Regions from separate parts of the Homo sapiens genome. Here all the other regions are reported to be linked to region 4. Evidence: microRNA targets listed by miRTarBase, many of them from high-throughput screens and not tested one by one. Region 4 holds a microRNA gene; each other region holds the end of a gene's coding sequence.

What was found. The annotated mature microRNA hsa-miR-4715-3p reads GUGCCACCUUAACUGCAGCCAAU and lies in region 4 at 2,391-2,413, opposite strand. An mRNA with a match to its seed (bases 2 to 7 or 8) in the 3' UTR can be bound and repressed. Matches are read on the target gene's strand: a 7mer-m8 pairs with bases 2 to 8, a 7mer-A1 pairs with bases 2 to 7 and ends in A, and an 8mer does both.
Region 1: the mRNA of HNRNPA1L2 is a reported target of hsa-miR-4715-3p. Seed matches in the 3' UTR shown: 7mer-m8 at 3,784-3,790.
Region 2: the mRNA of SLC2A6 is a reported target of hsa-miR-4715-3p. Seed matches in the 3' UTR shown: 7mer-m8 at 965-971 and 7mer-m8 at 1,202-1,208.
Region 3: miRTarBase lists GTPBP4 as a target of hsa-miR-4715-3p. Seed matches in the 3' UTR shown: 7mer-A1 at 3,160-3,166.

Annotation. Positions count from the first base shown.
Region 1 is chr13:52,642,246-52,647,337 of GRCh38, reverse strand. It overlaps HNRNPA1L2 (heterogeneous nuclear ribonucleoprotein A1 like 2), which reads right to left and starts at 4,907. Exons shown (of 1, transcript NM_001389320.1): 1 at 3,565-4,907. The coding sequence starts at 4,845. The coding sequence ends at 3,883.
Region 2 is chr9:133,467,488-133,472,579 of GRCh38, reverse strand. It overlaps SLC2A6 (solute carrier family 2 member 6), which reads left to right. Exons shown (of 10, transcript NM_017585.4): 10 at 404-1,486. The coding sequence ends at 559. CACFD1 (calcium channel flower domain containing 1) reads right to left here. Exons shown (of 5, transcript NM_017586.5): 4 at 4,552-4,659; 5 at 1,732-4,017. The coding sequence ends at 3,927. LOC124902295 (a long non-coding RNA gene) reads left to right here and starts at 4,013. Exons shown (of 2, transcript XR_007061831.1): 1 at 4,013-4,108; 2 at 4,338-5,092. RefSeq lists a silencer at 2,986-3,105 and enhancers at 3,566-3,615, 3,686-3,735, 3,816-3,975.
Region 3 is chr10:1,016,190-1,021,281 of GRCh38, reverse strand. It overlaps GTPBP4 (GTP binding protein 4), which reads right to left. Exons shown (of 17, transcript NM_012341.3): 17 at 1,350-4,207. The coding sequence ends at 4,055. It overlaps IDI2 (isopentenyl-diphosphate delta isomerase 2), which reads left to right. Exons shown (of 5, transcript NM_033261.3): 4 at 385-515; 5 at 1,448-2,372. The coding sequence ends at 1,765. Among named protein-coding and RNA genes, the nearest start is that of IDI2-AS1, 3.9 kb to the left of the region's middle.
Region 4 is chr15:25,846,368-25,851,459 of GRCh38, forward strand. It overlaps MIR4715 (microRNA 4715), which reads right to left and starts at 2,458; the gene lies at 2,380-2,458. The region is part of intron 1 of ATP10A (ATPase phospholipid transporting 10A (putative)); the gene reads right to left. RefSeq lists enhancers at 3,917-3,966, 4,017-4,076 and a silencer at 4,357-4,406.

The DNA.
Region 1 (5,092 bases), not on the chromosome of region 4:
GGAAAAATTCAAATGAAAATGCAAAGGACTTACAATAGCCAAATCAGCTTTGAAAAATAACAAAGTTGGAGAGATAACATTACTTCATCTCAAGACCTGTCAACCTTGTGGTATTGGCACAAAAATAGACAGATTAATGGAACAGAGAATCCATAAATAGACCCATACCATATGTAGACAGCTGATTTTTAACAAAGGTCCAAAGGTAATTCAGTGGAGAAAAAACAGTTGAAAAGGAGAGACTTTAAAACAGACTGGATATACATGTGCCAAAAAGTGAGTTTCAGTGTGTATCTTTGCACCATGTACAACAATTCACTCAAAATGGATTATGGGGCTACAACTCCTATAAAACTTCTAGAGGAAAGAAAATCTTTGTGATCTTGGGTTAGACAAAGATTTCTTAGCACACCAAAAGCATGATCCATAAAAGAAGAAATTTGTAAATTAGACTTCACCAAAATTTAAAAGATTCTACACTATGAAAATATTTGCAATCACATCTCTGATGAAGAGCTTGCATCCAGAATATATGAAGATGTCTCAAAACTCAGAAACTGTAAGTCAATAGGGAAATAGAAATTAAAACCACAACCATATGCCACTACACACCCATTTAAACGGCTAAAAGGAGAAAGACTGACCATGTTGGCAAGGATGTAGAGCAACTGGAAGACTCATACACCACTGGTAGGAATGTAAAAAGGCACAACCATAAAATGACTTAGACCACTGCTACACAATTAGCACCCAAGAGATATGAAATAACATGTTCATGCAATGTTTGTACAAAATGTCTGTGTCTGTTTATAGCAGTTTTAATGGTTAACAGTTGAAAACTGGAAACAACCCAAATGTACATCAATAGGTGAATGGATAAACAGTAGTACAGCTGGCCAGGTGCAGTGACTCATGACTGTAATCCCACACTTTGGGAGGCGGAGGCGGGTGGATCACCTGAGATCAGGAGTTTGAGACTAGCCTGGCCAACCCTGTCTCGTCTAAAAATACAAAAAAATGTGGCACGCACCTATATTCCCAGCTACTCAGGAGGCTGAGGCAGGAGAACCATTTGAATGCAGGAGGTGGAGGTTGCAGTGAGCCAGGATCACACCACTGCACTCCAGCCTGAGCGACAGAGCGAGACTCCATCTCAAAACAAACAAAAAACAACAGCAGTATAGCCAGTATAGCCATACAATGGAATACTGCTCAGCAATAAAAGGAATGAAGTATTGCTACACACTATAACATGGATGAATCTCAAAATTATGCTAAGTGAAAAAAATCAGACAAAAATAGTACATTTTGTATGATTCCATTTATATAAAATCCTGAAAAATTTTAAAACTCATCTGTATGACAATCAGTGGTTTACTGGGTGGGGGTGGGGGCTGGAGAGCAGGGTGGAATTTCAAGAATAAAAGGGGCATGAGGAAACATTGGGGTAATAGGTATGTTCACTATCTTGATTATGGTGATGATTTTACGAGTGTATACATATGTAACACTTCAAACTGTACACTTTAAATAATGTGCATGGTTTGCTTTATGTCAACTATAGCCCTATAAAGCTATTTTATTTTATTTTATTTTTTGAGATGGAGTCTTGCTCTGTTGCCCAGGCTGGAGTACAATGGCGTGATCTCGGCTCACTGTAAGCTCTGCCTCCCGGGTTCACACCATTCTCCTGCCTCAGCCTCCTGAGTAGCTGGGACTATAGGCACCCGCCACCACACCCAGCTAATTTTTTGTATTTTTAGTAGAGATGGGGTTTCACCTTGTTAACCAGGATGGTCTCGATCTCCTGACCTCATGATCCGCCCGCCTTGGCCTCCCAAAGTGCTGGGATTACAGACGTGAGCCACCGCGCCCGGCCTAAAGCTATTTTTTTAAAACACATTTAGAGCTATAGATAAGAATTGATAGTCATCAGCATATGGATGGTGGTAAGCAACATAAGAACATGAGCACAAGGAGGCCAGGCGCAGTAGCTCACACTTGTAATCCCATCACTTTGGGATGCCAAAGCAGGAGCATCCCTTGAGCCCAGGAGCTCGAGACCAGCCTGGGCAATATGGTAAAACACTTTCTCTACAAAATACATTAGCCAGATGTGGTGGTGCATGCCTGTAGTCCACTGAGTGTACTGAGGCTGAGGTGGGAGGATTGCTTGAGCCCAGGTCGAGGTTCAGTGAGCTGTTATCATGCCACTGCACTCCAACCTGGGCAACAGAGCGAGACCCTGTCTCAAAAAAGAAAGAAAAAAAAGGCAAGGAGAATATGTAGTTTTCTCACTTAATAAATATTGAATCCCTCCTATGTATAGATATGCGAGGGACTGGGGATACTAAAATGACTGCAATCTTGGTGCTTAATAATCTAGTGTTGGAATCACGCATATCAACAGGCAGTTATTATAGTGTCATATATGTCTAAATGGGAGAGATTAAAGGGGTTCTGTGAAAGCAGTCAGAAGATTTTGAAAGCTCAGAGTAAGTAATGTCTCAGCCAAAGCCTGAAGAACATATAGGAGGTAACCAGCATGAGATAACCTGTGCTGAGCAGAGTGGGCTTGAAATCAGATCTAGCGGAGTGATTTGGAAAGTACAGCTTCAGGGGTGTTTATTTGCAAAAGCCCCTTCAAACCCTATCTAATTTGTTAATATAATTTTGTACGTATTTTTCCTAAATAAATCCCCTCCCCACTCCCACAACCCCAACAAATTGTGTAAATTTTGGCCCCACAAAACCTGGATTTGTCCTTAAGTAGGTCTTTCTTTTGGGTTACTTAGAATTCAGCTCCTTCTTATGTCTGGGGAATTCCTTGAGTCTTCCCACTGAGCCAGTCTCCCTCTATAAAAGCTGAAAATGCCAAACAACTTAAGCTGAACTTGCACATACTTTAAAATTGGTAACTGGTTAGCAACAACAAATCAAGGAAGGACCTTAGTGTATCCTCTCCAGATGCAGTAGCACATGTGTCAAGATCAAATTCCCAAAGCAGCAGATAGTGTTACAAAGCAGTGTGTCAGTGCTTGGCAACAGTGGCTACAATCTCCTCACCCGACCAGTTATGCAGTATGGTTCCAGGATTTATTCCCAGCCGTGTGGCTCAGACTGATGCTGATTCTCTAGTCCTTTTGGCCATTCTGCAAGCAGCACAATATTCTTCTAATACAATTTATCTTATGCTGAAAACCAGAATCCATCTCTGTTGCTTACGACTAAGAATCCAAACTGATAGACAATTTGGTATTTGGAAGTGGAGTGCTACAAAACAGACCTAGAATGGTGTGTAATTGGCCGGGTGGAAAAGGCAGGATGGAGGGCATTGAGACACAACTGTTTCGGGCTGGGAAACTAGTGACTCTGAGACAGGACACCAAGCTCACACCATCAAGAAATGTACTCTAAAGCTGAGCAGCCTTAGAAAGAGTCTTCTTCCCAGTGCTCATATTAGATGTGGCTGTTGAGGACAAAACACCAGAGAGCCACAGCCACCAGATGAAAAAGCAGCCTACGGATTCCACCAAAGATCTTTTTTTTTTTTAGAGACATTTATTCAGCGTCACAATCAGACTATTACATTTAGCAATCAACAGCATGGGTGCAAAAAAAAAAATCTACATTAAAACACTTTGTTGGAATGCTTTACACTTTCCACAGAACAGAAACTAAAATAACCTGTTATACAATTAGTCACAAATACAGTCCTCGAGTTTTTTGCCCATACACATGAGTATTTGTCTAAAACATGTCTTCTTTGTAGCAGCTAGGCCCTGCCACCACTGTGCTTGGCTGAGTTCACAAATCTGTTGTAACCTGTAGCTTCCCTGTCACTTCTCTGGCTCTCCTCTCCTGCTAAGCTTTGTTTCCTAATTAAAATCTTCTGCCACTGCCATAGCTACTGCTGCTGCTGGAAACGCCATAGCCACCTTGGTTTTGTGGTTTTGCAAAGTATTGGCCTCCACCGCCATAGGGGCCAGAGCTTCTGCCTCCAAAATTTCCTCCCTTCATGGGTCCAAAATTTGAAGACTGATTGTTGTAATTGCCAAAATCATTGTAGCTTCCACCACCTCCAAAATTGCTTCCATCATTACCAAATCCATTATAGCCATCCCCACTGCCACCATATCCACCACCACCACAGCTGCCACCAAAGCCACCACGACCACTGAAGTTTCCTCCACGACCAAAGTTGTCATTCCCACCGAAACCATCTCCACGACCACCACCAAAGTTTCCAGAACCCCTTCGACCTCTTTGGCTGGATGAAGCACTAGCCATCTCTTGCTTTGGCAGGGCTTTTCTAACTTCACAGTTGTGGCCCTTCACAGTATGGTATTTCTGAATGACAATCTTATCCACGGAGTCATGGTCGTCAAAGGTTACAAAGGCAAAGCCCCTTTTCTTGCCACTGCCTCGGTCAGTCATGATTTCAATTACTTCAATTTTTCCATACTGTTCAAAATAATCTCTTAGGTGATGTTCTTCAGTGTCTTCTTTAATGCCACCAACAAATATCTTTTTCACAGTTAAGTGGGCACCTGGTCTTTGAGAATCTTCTCTGGAGACAGCTCTCTTTGGTTCCACAACTCTTCCATCCACCTTGTGTGGCGTTGTATTCATAGCTGCATCCACCTCCTCCACAGTGGCATATGTGACAAACCCAAAGCCCCTGGAGCGCTTGGTGTTTGGATCTCTCATTACCACACAGTCTGTGAGCGTTCCCCATTGCTCAAAATGGCTCCTCAGGCTCTCATCAGTTGTTTCAAAGCTCAACCCTCCAATGAAGAGCTTCCTCAGCTGTTCGGGCTCTTTTGGAGACGCTGACTTAGACATGACGGCAAGGTGAAGAGAGACTTTAACGATGCTTCTTCAGCGGCGTCCACGGGCAGAAAAAGTCCACCAGAGATCTTAGATATGAAGCTGGATAGAGTATTTGGATGAGATTCTGGCTGATTCTCTTTGGGAAATAAATACATTTTTCATATGGGCCTGAACATTTTTTAGTGTATGTACAGGAAGAAAGACAAGTATACATAACAGTAGGATACTTCATTCCTCCCTTCTTCCTTGCTGTGAAGCC
Region 2 (5,092 bases), not on the chromosome of region 4:
GGGGAGGGCAGGCAACCCAGAGTGAGTCCATCAGCCTAGAGGGTCCAAGAAGAACCTGCGTGCCCACCAGGCTGCAGGGCGGGCCTCCTGCAGGCCGCGGCATGGAACAGCTGGGATGCCAGCGCTGGGTAGGGGGTGTGGAGGGGGTACCTGAGCTGACGCCAGAGGGCCCAGCCCCTGAGGAAGGCCGAGGGGCAGACGGGATGCAGACTTCAAGGGCTACTTCGGATTTGTCCTGGGGACAGTGGGGGAGCCCTGGTGTGGGGGGGCGGTCTCTGAACACAGGAAGGACCAGATGAAGGCCCCACAGGGCTGGTCACTACCAGCAGCGCCCACGAGCTCCTCTGGGGCAGGAGGACCCTGGAGCTTCTCCCTGTGACCCGGCCCCGCTCTTCACCCGCAGAGCACCTTCGGCCTCCAGGTGCCTTTCTTCTTCTTCGCGGCCATCTGCTTGGTGAGCCTGGTGTTCACAGGCTGCTGTGTGCCCGAGACCAAGGGACGGTCCCTGGAGCAGATCGAGTCCTTCTTCCGCACGGGGAGAAGGTCCTTCTTGCGCTAGGTCAAGGTCCCCGCCTGGAGGGGGCCAAACCCCCAGTGGCTGGGCCTCTGTGTTGGCTACAAACCTGCACCCTGGGACCAAGAGGCAGCAGTCATCCCTGCCACCAGCCAGAGCACAGGAAGAGCAGTGTGATGGGGCCTCAGCAGCGGGTGCCCCTGGCTCGGGACAGGTAGCACTGCTGTCCAGCCACAGCCCCAGCCCAGGCAGCCCACAGTGCTGCACGTAGCCATGGGCCGCAGGAGTGCATACAACCCTGCATCCAGGGACACGGCCCTGCTGGGTGACCTCAGGCCTAGTCCCTTTCCCTTGCGTGAAGGACACGCCCCACAGAAGGCTACGGGGAGGACTGAGAGGACAGGGCTGGAGGCAGCCAAGTAACGTAGTCATATCATCGCGCTCTGATCTGGTGGCATCTGGCTGTGCAAGGAAGACCCGGCTTTGCCCTCACAAGTCTTATGGGCACCACAGGGAACATCCTGGACTTAAAAAGCCAGGGCAGGCCGGGCACAGTGGCTCACGCCTGTAATCCCAGCACTTTGGGAGGCCAAAGCAGGTGGATTACCCAAGGCCAGGAGTTCAAGACCAGCCTGGCCAACATGGTGAAACCCCGTCTCTACTAAAAAATACAAAAAAGCTGGGTGTGGTGGCACACACCCGTAGTTCCAGCTACTTGGGAGGCTGAGGCAGCATTGCTTGAACCCGGGAGGTGGAGGCTGCAATGAGCTGAGATCATGCCATTGCACTCCAGCCTGGGCAACGAGAGTGAAACTCCGTCCCCACCCCCTGCCAAAAAAAAAAAAAAAAAAGCCAGGGCAAAGGACCTGGCGTGGCCACTTCCTCCTGCCCCAGCCCAACCTCTGGGAACAGGCAGCTCCTATCTGCAAACTGTGTTCACCCTTTTGTAAAAATAAAGGAACTGGACCTGTAGTCCTAGCGAGGAAAGAGTGGGGTCTACTCCAGGAGCCCCCACAGCAGCCAGGCTAGACCCGAACCAGCCAAGGTTGCCAGGGCCACTGACTGCTGATCCATAGCAAAAGCAGGGCAGGGAAAAGGCTGCAGTGAGGGGAAGCCCACTGCGAGGCCCACCCTTAACAGGCTCTTTCTAGCTGTGTGACCTTGGGCAGGTCACTTTCCTTGTCTGGGATGCTGGGGGCAGCCTCGGGACAGGACCTGTAGTTATTTCCTGGGCCAGCGGCTCCTGCCTGGCTTCCACACTCACACACAGGCACCAAGGCAGAAGGGAGCAGAGGGCAGGCACGCGAGCCACGGCCACGCTTTATTGCTTAAGACGCACACAGAACACAGAGGAACAAACAAGGAGGAAAGGGCGCCACACACAGCCCAGACCAGGCAGGAGCGGCCCAGCCGCCGGAAGAGACGTTCCTTGCAAGGCAGGGCCCCTGCTGGACAGCACGCCCCCTGGGCGACAGGGTCAGGGACCCCAGGACTGCACAGCTGCAGACTTGCTGGGAACCTGGGACAGGTGACACGCCCACTCTCGCCTGTGGCCCAGGGCCTTCCACCTCTGCATCCAGCCATGCACCCACCATTTCCCCACAGGGTACAGGGGCAGCCTTCCTTGATCCACAGCCAACCCTTCTCCTGCTGTCTCTGGCTGTCAGTGAGACCCCTCTGGAAAGGGCAGAAGCAGGCAAGCCAGGCAGAAGGGGGCCCGGGGTCCCACTACCTGGGTAGGAATGAGCAGAGGGCGGGCAGAGCCCTTGCTCCTTGTGGGAGGTAGACAGGTCTCACTGCATACATGGGACAGATGTGTGCACCCACACACATATACATACACACACACACACACACACACACACACACACACACAGCCCTTTGAACCCAGCACTGGCCTGAGGAAGGTGGCCCCGGAGGAACCCTGAAGGCACATGTCCACCAGGCTATAATGCCCCTGCCACCCTGGGGCTCAGCTGGCCAGACTCCCAGGGGTGGGATGCTGCTGACCCAGGAGCCCACCAAGTCCCCAGGGCAGTACTGGGCAGGGCCCAGAAAACCCCACGCCCAGCCCACCAGCCTGCCACTCCTGGCCTCAGATGCCACTCCCGGCCTCAGATGCCACTCCCAGCCTCAGACGCAGATGGGCCCGAGAGGTGTTCCTGGGAAACAGTTCACTTAGCAAGACCCAGTACCTGCGCTCCAGAAGCTCAGCGCAGGCCCAGCCTGGGGTTGGCCCCAGATGGAATATCTTCCACACCCGCCCGCTTCTGCCAAACCCCACCTGGGCTAAGCCAGGCCCGACCAGGCACCTGCCCGATGGCTGAGAGCCAGCCTCACGGTCAGAGAGGCCAGCGGGCTGAGGCCACAGGGCAGAGGGAATATGGGGGTGCACATCCTGGGCACCAGCTCTCTGCATCCTCCCTGGGTAGGCCTGGCTCCGGACAGCCTGGCACCCAGGGCAGTGGGGACAGCTCTGTGTGGGGAGGTGACTGTGGCCTCTGCCCAGTTCTTAAAAGGCAGAAGCTCCCTGAGGGCAGGGCTTGGGCAGGCCAGCAGGAGCACCTGAGTGGGGCTGAGGTCAGACCCACTAACCCACTAATGGGGCTGGGCTGTGGCTGATGTTGACGGGGCCACACCAGGGAGAGGGTGGGCACCCTCGGTGCCAGGGAGAGCCTGCTCTCCCCACTTCCTTAGCACCAAGGCCAGCAGGGGCGGGGGGTGATGGGCAGAACCTAGGGGCCCCAGCAGGCCCAGGGAGGAGGGGCAGCCGAGGGGCCTTGAGGTGGCCTGTCCAAGGTTCCCAGGGCCAGCAGGGAGCATCCCCCACCCAGCTGTCCAGTCACTGCCAAGGCTGCAGTTCCAGGTACCGGGGTGCACCTTAGGAGCCCTGTGGGCTTCTTCAGAAGGCAGGGTGACAGTGGGCGCTGCACCCTAGGCAGCAGTGGGAGGTTGCTGGCAGCGGCAGGCTGTCCCAGGCCCTGGGGCTCCACCTGCTAAGAGAGCTGGGGGAGGTCCCTCTGCTCAGTGCCCAGGTGGCAGGGTCCCACTTGCCCCTCCCCTCAAGCCAGGACCAGCATCTCCAGGGGAAGCTGCTCCCAGGTCACAGCAGGTCACAGGCAGCCCTGTCTGTGGTGTGAGATCTGCAGACCCACCCAGCAGAGGAGTAGGGCTGGGTAGTGTCCACACAGCTGCTGCAGGCTCTGCCTCAAGTCCAGCAGCCCAGACCCTCACACCAGCAGCCAGTGGCTCCTGGCTTAAGCCAGTCTGGAGAAAGGAGCAGAGGACTCCAGGTGTAGGGACACGTGCAAAGGCCCCTCTCCAGGCTGTGCCTCAGCGTGGACAGTCCAGGCCTCACTTGGACCCACACAGAGCCAGAAGAGGGGACAGGGAGGGAGGGGCGCCCAGCCCTTCACAGCTCCCCCTCCAGGGTCTCCGCGAGCTTCTCCTCATCCGCCTGCTGCCTCTGCTGCTGGATCCTGGCATAGGAGATCGCATCGCCCCTGGGGAGAGAGAGAGGCAGCGTCACGTGGAGCACCAGCCCCATGCCCACAGCCCTCCTGACCACTGCCCGGTTCCTGCCCTGTGACCCAGGTGTGACCTGCAGGCATTCTGATTTCCCCAGAGACAACTGCTGGGGTGGCAAAGGCCTGTCTTGTCCCCTCTGAGAATGGCCCAGGCTCCCTGGGATGCTGGGCTGCGAAGGAACCAGCCTCAGTCTGGGCTCTGCAGGAGAGAGGGTGGCAACTGAGTACAATGCCCGGTGCAGACCTGGGAGGGGAAGGGGCTCCCACCAGCCATGTTTTTGCTATCCTTGCTGCAGGCCGTGACGGGGCAAGACTGGGCCACGCAGAAGTGTTGTAAGTCCTCTGTCTTCACCCACTCGAGCTGAGCCCTGGAGGCACCAATGAGTTACTGGGACCTCTGCCTCGGTCTCCACTAGCTAAAAGGGGCCACTCTCAGATCCTCCTCACTGAAGGACTTCGGGGGGCGGAGGGAGGAAGGCCCTGCCCAGGGGCTGGGCCTGGCAGACGCACTTTTTGCCCAGAGCAGAGAGTCCGTACAGCACCCCCGTAGCAAAGGCGATGGCGTTGCCCAGCAGCGTGGTCAGGGTCAGGCTGATGACGATGGGAACGACCGCCATCCTGGGGGGAAAGCAGAGGTCAAGGGGGCACTCCGGCCCCACAGCCACCACATCCTTCCCCGCTTCCCAGACTCGGCCCAGCATCCTTCCTAGACACCCAGGGCACAGGAAGGATCCCCAAAAATCAACTGAGACACAGCTTCAGAAAGTCCTTCATCAGCCCTGAACTTGTCTGTAAAACTGTTCCATTCTGGGAATAGGATCCAAAGCTTTCATCAGATTTTTGAAGGGGTCTGTGATCCCAAAAAGAGCTAAACAGTAACGAGATGGTCCAGTGCCCTCACTGTGAGAAAAACTGGCCAGAAAGAGCCTGTGACAGAGAATCTGGCTTCCCATCCAGGACCTACTAGCTTCGCGGGCAAGTTACTCGGAATCTCCACCGCGGAGAGGGGATCAAAGCTTGTCCGAGGTCAGTCATGTTACCTACACAATGC
Region 3 (5,092 bases), not on the chromosome of region 4:
CAGCCCACAGCCCCACCACCTCCTCCCGCCACCCCATGGCATCTCAGGTCCTCTGTGGGTACAAAACTGAGTAGGAACCAGTCCCTCTCCTAAGACATACTGGGATAGTGCCACGGGACATGTGTGTGCACATCTGCAGGAAGGGCCGCAGGAGCGGTCAGGGCCAGCCCCGCCAGGTGGTCATGTGGAAGACCCTCACCAAGCCCACAGCCGTGGAGGCTGGAGGCGAGTGCTGCTCTGAGAGCCCATGACAAACCCACTCCCCCCGCCAGGCTGTCTTCTGCTGATGACGGATGATGGTTTTACATGAAGCATCTGCATTTGTATTTAATATATTCACTTTTCAGGAATAAAGAGGGATGTTCCCACATGCATTTTTTCCAGGGTATTTTACCGACTCCTGTAGTAGCCACCCATTATACAACCCAGCAGAACTGGAAGAAAAGGATGCCATCGGAGTGAGGAGGGCAGCCCAGAGGCGTCTGCAAGCAGAGCTGGGAATTCCTGGGGAGCAGGTACACACAGCATCCAGTCTCAGCTGTGTCCACGGGAGTCCAGGTTGGCAGCGGGCAGACGGTGAACAAAGTCCAGGCTGGATCTACACCATTGACCTCATGAAGCACCATGAGGATGAAGGATGGGGCTGTGGATGGGGCTGTGAATGAGCTGTGAATGGGGCTGTGAATGGGGCTGTGAATGTAGCTGTGGATGGGGCAGTGTGAGTCCCTATGTGTCCCAGGCAGGGTTGAGACTGTGCAGGAATCTGTCGACCACACACCGAAGAGGAAATTCAAGCCGGGCGTGGTGGCTCACGCCTGTAATCCCATCACTTTGGGAGGCCGAGGCGGGCGGATCACAAGGTCAAGAAATCAAGACCATCCTGGCCAACATGGTGAAACCCCGTCTCTATTAAAAGTACAAAAATTAGCTGGGCGTAGTGGCACACGCCTGTAATCCCAGCTACTTGGGAGTCAGAGGTTGCAGTGAGCCGGGATTGTGCCACTGCACTCCAGCCTGGCGACAGAGCGAGACTCCATCTCAAAAAAAAAAAAAAGAAAGAAATTCAAGTGTAGAAAGAATGTCCAGGATCCTGTGAGCATGTGTTACCTTCATCCACTCAAGAACACGTTTAAGAGAGGATGGATGTTCTCCTGACAACGCTAGCCGGTTTCTACGGGGTTTTCTGTTGAGGATGTGTGTGTGACACGGTTAGTTCTTTAAATGAAGACAGACAGGTTTACTGGAACCAAGAAACCAAAGCCGGTTTATCATTCAGACTTGAGTCCACAAAAATTTACTTAGCTAAAATCGAGGTTTTGGAAATTATCAATTACCAAAGAAAGTGTTCATTTTCTGAGGAAAACAAATGTGTTTATTTTCTCTATTTTTCTGTAAATTCTGTGTTTTACATTAGCGTTGTTAACACTGCACCAATTTCTGTCAATAGATTTCTCCAGAGGACATTGTGTTCATGACAATCTATCACCACAAGGCAAAATCAGACAGAATTTGGGGAGAGCATGAAATTTGTTACCTTCTGCTTGTGAGGAAAAACGTCACTCTGAACCCGGATCCCAGTGAAACGAAAAGCATCCTCTACCTGTCCCAGGAGGAGCTGTGGGAGCTGCTGGAGAGGGAGGCGAGGGGTGAAGTCAAAGTCACCCCCTGGCTAAGAACCATTGCCGAGAGGTTTCTGTACCGGTGGTGGCCTCACCTGGATGACGTGACCCCGTTTGTGGAGCTTCACAAAATACACAGAGTGTGAGAGGCAGGGAGGTCGAGTCAGCCATGTGTAATGCCCTCAGTGCAGGCAGACGCACCATTGAGGCAATGATACACCCTCTCCAAAAAACAGGGCAAAAGGGGCACTTGATTGCCCATCATGTATAAATCACTATTTCAACCTTTTCATCAACTTTGTCATATCTTCATTTTCCCTTTTCCTTATTTCCATATTTCTCATCTGCCTGGTTGCAGGGAGGAAATTTAACATTTCCTTTGTCCCAATTTCCATTTTATAAGCACTTGTTTGATTAACAGCAGCTGATCCTGAAAGTCTTGGGGAGATCTTGAGAGTCCTGAAGCAGGCGGACTAGCCTGGCTGGACCATGAGGCTGTCTCCCCACAGCTTTATCCAAGCCTCCAAGGTCAGGATGGGATCTCTGTATCATGTTTTTCTTTTTAAATCACTTATTTCAGAGTGCAACACAAGGCTGCATTTTTAAAAAAAAGACACATTCAATCTTGCATCCTAATACAAGCAGTACGGAAGATGCGTATGGTCTCAGCCAAGTGACTCGACGTTTATCCACTTCTGTTCATTTGATCGTTTCAGTAATATGCTTACAAATAAAGACATACTTGCTTTAAAACATACTGTTGTTGTTTAACACAAAGTAAACTATATGTTAAGTTTTGGTGTTTAATACGGAGAAAGAATTTCAAAAACCAGACCTGGTATTTTTTTTTTTTTTTTGAGATGGAGTCTCGCTGTCGACCAGGCTGGAGTGCAGTGGTGCGATCTTGGCTCACTGCAAGCTCCGCCTCCCGGGTTCAAGCCATTCTCCTGCCTCAGCCTCCCAAGTAGTTGGGACTACAGGCGCCCGCCACCACACCCAGCTAATTTTTTGTATTTTTAGTAGAGACGGGGTTTCACCGTGTTAGCCAGGATGGTCTCGATCTCCTGACCTCGTGATCCGCCTGCCTCGGCCTCCCAAAGTGCTGGGATTACAGGCATGAGCTGCCGCGCCCGGCCATACTGTTGTTGTTTAACACAAAGTAAACTATATGTTAAGTTTTGGTGTTTAATACGGAGAAAGAATTTCAAAAACCAGACCTGGTATTTTTTTTTTTTTTTTCACACGGAGTCTCTCTCTGTCACCCAGGCTGGAGTGCAGTGGCACGATCTCGGCTCACTGCAACCTCCGCCTCTGGGCTCAAGCAATTCTCCTGCCTTAGCCTCCCGAGCAGCTAGGATTACAGATGCCCACCACCACGCATGGCTAATTTTTGTATTTTTAGTAGAGATGGGGTTTCACCATGTTGGCCAGGCTGGTCTCGAACTCCTGACCTCCTGATCTGCCCACCTCGGCCTCCCAAAGTGCTGGAACTACAGGCTTGAGCCCCTGCGCCCAGCCCAGCCCTGGTAAATTTTTAAAATTGCCACATGTAATCCAGAAGTGTGATTAACTAAAGTCCTTTCCTCAGCTATAATGTTGATTGTGTGACTTGATAACTTATCCGTGGTGGCTCTTGGACCCCTGTGTGTCTTTGGAGCTCCAGGAGCACACGGACCCCTGGGCAGGTCCCTCCGACCCCACAGCTCTTCACCCCAACGCTCCCCAGCAGGTGCTTTTGAGGTGGCATTGGCGGTGTTTTTGTGTTTTACTGAACATGTAACTTCAGGGACGGGCCACAGAAATAGGAGAATGCCCATATTTAATTGCCTAATGCCTCCAGCAACATTTTACTCCCCCAAAAGTATTTTTGCTTTAAAACAAAATAGAAATGTCATGTTGTTTGCCTTTTTATTTGGCCAAATCCATAGCGACTATAACTAAACCAAAACATGAGCTAAGTAAATGAAAACTACTTTCTTCTGGAGGTTTATTTTGGATAAAATAGTTGAAGACAGACTACAATGAGACATTGTAAAATAAGACTAGAAAATAATTTAAGAGCGTATTTTAAGCACGGGATTCCGACACACTCATAAACGTGTTTGCTCCCAGCTCTTACAAAAGAAAATAAGGTTTTTCTCCATCAAAAACAACCTAGTTAAACCAGTAAATCTTCCCAGTTCTGAAAATCTGAAGCAACTGATACTCCATTAAATGTGGAAACACTGTCTACTCAAAATATTTGTAATATTATGCAGTGACAAAAATTTCCCACACCTATATAGGGTTAACCATAGTTTTCAGCAAAGCAACAAGTGCTTTACTTATTTTGTCTTTTTCAGTTTATACAGAGCTCCAATTTCATGAAACCATACTGTGCCAAACCAGGAAATAAACAGCAACACTCTAGCGAAGCCACGCCAACCAAACGGATACTATCTCCTGTCCTTTTTACCAGCTTTCCTCTTCCCAGACAGCAAGTGCTTGGGCTTCATATCAAACACGTGTCTATCCGCCTCCCCTTTCTTCCCCAACCGATTCATCTTCTTCTGAGCATTCTTCATCATAGTCTTGGCTTTCTTCACCATCTAAAAGGAGGAGAAAAAAATAAAGTATGTTCATTACTTAAAACCAATTTTCCATTCTGAATTTCAACTACTGGGTAACAATCTGTTTAATGGCTCAGGTCTGCTCAGCGAAGAGACCCTGTTACATCTCTTTTCTCTTAAGCCCAGCACAGTTATCCCTGTTACATCTCTTTTCTCTTAAGCCCAGCACAGTTACCCCTGTTACATCTCTTTTCTCTTAAGCCCAGCACAGTTACCCCTGTTACATCTCTTTTCTCTTAAGCCCAGCACAGTTATCCCTGTTACATCTCTTTTCTCTTAAGCCCAGCACAGTTATCTGCAGGAACTCAATGAGTATTTTTGTATAAAGACTGGATGAAAATCATACCCAGGACAAGCTTTATACCCAGGACTAGATACACTTTAGACCTAGAAGGTTAGCACACATCTGTTTTAACTCCCTCTTACACAAGCTAAGGACTCAGGCCCATGAACCTGTTTTCCTCAGGTCTGACTGACAAGTGGCAATGCCAATATTAACAGCCAGGTTTCAAGATGGCAATGGCACAGAGGAGTGAAGCTCAGGCTTCCATGAAGGAGACTGCAGTTTATACACAGACTCTCCTGCATCTCCATTACCACAACGCTGAAACTAAAAGTTGTTGTGTTTAATAAAAGGACGTTTCAGCAAGACAGACTGTGTCCATCTTAAGTGTCTTTGCCAAAAGACGCTACAAATAAACTAAATGTGACTCAAGCTCTCCACCTGGGGGGAACAATCCTGCAACCTAAGGATGAGCAGGATCACCCGCCAATCAACCCAGGAGTTCCCTCTGCTGTTCCTCCCATGGGGGGCTTGCTGGACTTGAGGCCTCCTGGTGCTCAGCTGTGGCCACTTCCTGGCCC
Region 4 (5,092 bases):
ACGCTTAAGGTTATAAGGCTGTGTGTGCCAGTGGAGCACAGCTCAGCTGCTCAGTGTGACAGTGACAAGCCCCAAGTTAGCACGTGGTCCACTTCCAGGAAGTGGAGGAGTCAGAGCGCCCCACCCCTCATGCCTCAACCTTCAGAACTGACATGCTCAGCGCAGAAGGGCCACCCCTGGGCATGAGGGTAGACCATGGTGGTGGTCCCACACTGCTGAGCGTTCTTCAAGCCTTCCTAAACATCCCTGGATAAAAGAGACAGCATGAGAATCACCTAGCCTGACATGTGCCGGACACGTGCCTGACACGTGCAATGTTCCTTCAGTGATCTAAAATGACATCACAACATAAAGCTCCTGGAAGATGTTCTGGGTAGTGGTGCCTAAAGTGATGCCCACACACAAAAACATACACCATCACAGGAGTGCAGAAAAACACTACCACCTTTGTTTGTAATTGTGGTTTATTTTATTTTCATTTATATTTTGTATGTTTCAATAGATATAAGATATTTATGCATTACATGCCGGTAATTTATAAATAAATACACACACCCCCACTTTGGGTGCACATGCCCACTTTTTACTGATAGAGGTGTGAGATCAAAAACATCTGAAGACTGTGGCTGTAATGAACCAGCTACACTAAAAAGGATCAATAACATATACATTTTTCTAAAAAGCATCCATAGAGCATCTTTGTCAGCTATCCTTGTTAAATTCTGGGTATTGGCTTTTATCAGGATAACTATCTGGTGTTAGACACTTTCTCAAAAGCCAGAAATATTTAAACAACTTGATCTCATCCACACACATCAAAGATCAAAGGGACACAGGAGGCTCTGACTGAGCAGCACGCGCAGGCACTCAGCCAGTGGCCCTGAGTAACATCTCTTGGGACCCCAGAGCCCCAGGGCCACCTGTTCTGCTCCCAGGCTCTGCCCCTTTTGGACTGAAACCTCCCTCTCTGGGCTCCCATTTCCTCACAGGAACAATGAAGAATTTATAAGCTCTTCACAGAGCTAGCTAAGAATGGTACCATACAAATTCATAAAAATTCAGGCAAGTATATGGTGCTAGAGAAATACGTGAAGTTTTATCACTAAGTATTTGAACAACAATTTTAAAAAGCACCTTTTTTCCACCGTATCATGATCTTTGCGGGTCACGGGGTCTTCATGATCCCACTAAGCAATTTGGAGCTATTCCATATATTCCTAGCTAATTCAAACAGCTACAGCCTTTTTTTTTTTTTTTTTTTTTTTTTTTTTTTTTTTTTTTTTGAGATAGAGTCTCACTCTGTCACCTGGGCTGGAGTGCAGTAGTGCAATCATAATCACGTCTCACAGCACTCTTAACCTTCTGTGCTCAAACAATCTCAGCCCCGCAAGCAGCTGGGACTACAGGCATGCACCACCATGCCCAGCTAATTTTTCGTATTTTTTGTAGGGATGAGGTTTTGCCATGTTTTCCAGGCTGGTATCCAACTCCTGAGCTCAAGCAATCCACCCACCTTGGCCTCCCAAAGTGCTGGGATTACAGATGTGAGCCACCACACCTGGCCTACAGCCATTTTTTAACGGAAATCATCTTAATCAATATTAACACACAAAAAGCTGTAGTTAAGAAGGTGGTTTCTGCCAGGCATGGCAGATAGAGCCTGTATTTCCAGCTACTTGGGAGGCTGAGGCAGGACTGTGTGAGGCCCAGAAGTTCAAGACCAGCCTGGCAACACAGCAAGACCTGGCCTCTAAAAAGTGTTTTTTTTTTTTAATCATCTGTAAAATGAGGATGCAAAACAAACAAAAAAATAAACATGGTATCTGTTTGTTAAACTCTGCAATGAACACATGTATTAGCTTCCCGCTGCGGCAACAAATTATGACAACTTGGTGGCTTGAAGTAACACAAATTTGGGGAGTTTTATTTTATTTATTTCATTTTATAGAGATGGGGTCTTGCCCAGGCTGGAGTGCAGTAGCATAATCACAGCCCAGTGCAACCCCAGTCTCCTGGTCTCAAGTGATCCTCCTGCCTCAGCCTCCTGAGGACCTGGGACTACAGGCTTGTGCCACTGCACCGGCTAAACAAATCTGTCATTTCACAATTCTGGAGGTCAATCTGACATGGATCTTACTGGGTCAAAACGATGGTTTCGGCAGGGCGGCGGGAGAGAATGTTTCCTTGCCTTTTCCAGCTCCTAGAGGCCGCCCACACTCCTTGACTCTAGGTCCTCCACTTTCAAAGCCAACAATGGCAAATTAAGTAGTATTCATATCGGATCTCTCTGCCCGCTTTTCTTCCACTTTTACAGACTTGTGATTACACTGGGCCCACAATTCACTCCAGAATAATCTCCCCATCTTTTTCCAAGAGAAAGGGGAATTAGAATTGGCTGCAGTTAAGGTGGCACCATCAGCTGATTAGCCACCTTAACTGCAGCCAACTTTCATTCCCCTTTCTCATGGGACCTAAGGGAGGGCAGTAGCTCCAGGGATGTTTTACAATTTAAGTTCTATTATTATTCAAGCACTATGGGGCTGACAGGTCAGGAGAGGACTGCCATTGAAAAGAGGATTTGTTACTCAGAGTCCTCCAGAGAAGGAGCTCGCCACACCTACCGCTGTGGGAGGGGGAACATAGGGGAGACCAGCGTCCTAGGAGGCAGAGACCTTGGTGAGAGGAGGGAGAGTCTTTTCTGTGCCTTCCATGGGAAAGAACAGGAGAGGCGGGGTAAGCAGGTTTAGAATCCATTAGTTTGAATAACCTCGGTGGACCCTGGGACAAAGGGCTGTCCCTAGCTGCTTGGTGGCTGGACCTGGGGTGATGAGAGCAGGTGCACAGTGGATGAAACACAGAGGGGGCCGAGGGTGTGGACGTTGGATTGGGTGGCTTGCACACGTAAGGCATGCTGCAGCAATGCTGTTTGCTATCTCTAGGAATTATCTAGCCCTGGGAGGGCCTGTCCCTCCGGAGGCAGCAAGGCTCCAGATGTCAAAGCACCAGACAAGAGAAAATAAAAAGACATCCTTAGTACAGGACTGAATAAGCAGGAACTGAGTTTAGATGTCACTGCATGCAGTAGTTGGGAACAGAGCCAAGAATTACAGACACCACCCTCCCTCCTTCTACGCCTTCTCCAAGTCCCAAGGGCGCATTATGAAGGAATTCCCATTAAGTCTGGCCAGACGCTTTACAGAGGAATTAACACAGGATAGGAAACTGAAAGGAGAAAAAGAGAAAAGACCAGAAACGGAGGAATTTAACCGTGATCAAGGAGGAGCACGGCGCAGCTGCAGGACTGAGCTCAACTCTGGCTCTCACCTCCATGCCAGAGAGAACCTGAGGGTCTCTGTCAGCATGGCCTCCTGGCCCCCAGACATGCTCCCCATGGATGTGAAAGACCACAGGCAGCAGCCAGATTTCTATGGAATGAATCAAACTTTCCATCCTGCTTAAAAGCAATGATTTTCTTTCCAAAAAAAAAAATAAATGTGTACATGGAAAATATTACAATGCAAGTCACAATGAGAGTTAAAAAAGACACACACATCTGATTTGACTAAAGTCTGTCCTGGCAACACGAATAAATAAAATAATGACAATGACACGATGGCACTATGAAATGCCATTACCTAGGTTTCTACCAATTAATTATGAGGGACAAGACATACATAACTAAATATAATTAAATCACGCAGGTCGATAAGATTACCCTTTTTGAGAAAATAATTACATGCCACGTATATTTTGAAACTGTTCAGTGGAGGTGAACAATTGTAGCCCATTATGTGTATGAGACATTCTGGAAAATATCGCTTTGACTTATGTTCAAAAATGGTTGGCTTGTTCAGAGAGAGAGAGTCAGTGGGGAGCACCCAGCAGGAACAGGGGCCTCCCCAGCTCGCTCTCTCCCTGCCTCGTCTTTCCTCTCACAATGCTCTCGGTTTTCTGAGTCAACCATGCTCCTGGGCCAAGGTGCAGCACTGGAGATGACCGAGACAGACAGCGTGGATGCGTTTTGTACGGGGAACAAAACTGATTTCCAACTTGGCAAAAAGCAACAGGAGAGGCCCCGGCTGTGTCTGGTACCGCCTCAGCCGAGCCCTGAAGGGAAAGGCCCAGAAAAAGGGATGTGGCCACACCCTGGGGGCCAGCCCACAGGCGAGGCGAGTCCCCAGGCGCCATTCTACGCGGCCAGTTTTGGAGAACTGGAACTGTGTAGAGCGTCCGGCGGCAGCGGACCCAGCGCTGCTCCATTCTCCCTCCCTCCCTCCCCCCCCAGCCCCGGTGACTCACTCCGCGGCCCGGGCAGGGCGAGACCACGCCCACCACCCCCCAAGACCTGGCCGCGCTCACCTCCCCTCCTGCACAGAGCACCTAAGGGCCCAAAGATCACATCTGAACAAAGGATGGAACTTGGAACTTACATTTACCTTTCCTGCCCCTGACTTTTTAAACTGTTATTAGAAGTATACAAAAACAAAAGGCAGGACATAAAAGTAGTGAAATGCTTTAAACTCTACAAATGACTCAGTTCAAATGTGCGGTGACAGCCTGGGTTTCCTGCCATTTCGTTAACCCCTCGTGTACTGGATTCTTTTAGAAGCAGTGGTTTCCATGCCAGACATCACTTCTTGGGGGAAGCAAAGCAAACAGAGGCTGGGGAGGGGTGAGTGGGGATCTCGGGGACTCCGCCGAACTTGGGGAGGGAGCCTTGTCAAGTCTGGCCTGGCCCACGCTGAGGTCCGTTCGCACCCCAGGACCTTTCTAGAAAAGTCCTAGATTACTATACAACAGGCAGATCTGATGCTGAAACAGAAATAAGGCAGGTCTCTGAGCGGATCTAAAGTTCCCTACTATGCAAGAGCTCACGGGCCTCCAAAGCACCTACTAAGCACCTTTCTGAGAAGACTTGCATGGAGGGCTCTGTTCCAAGGCTCTCCATTCGTGGCCTAGGTTGAGTTTCCTTTTGAAAACCAAGACTTACTTTAGGTTTTTTTTTTTAATTATTATTGTTATAACTGTTGATAAGCAAAAATCAATCAAAGACATCGTTAAATGGGCCAATGAATTTACTTCATTTTATGTT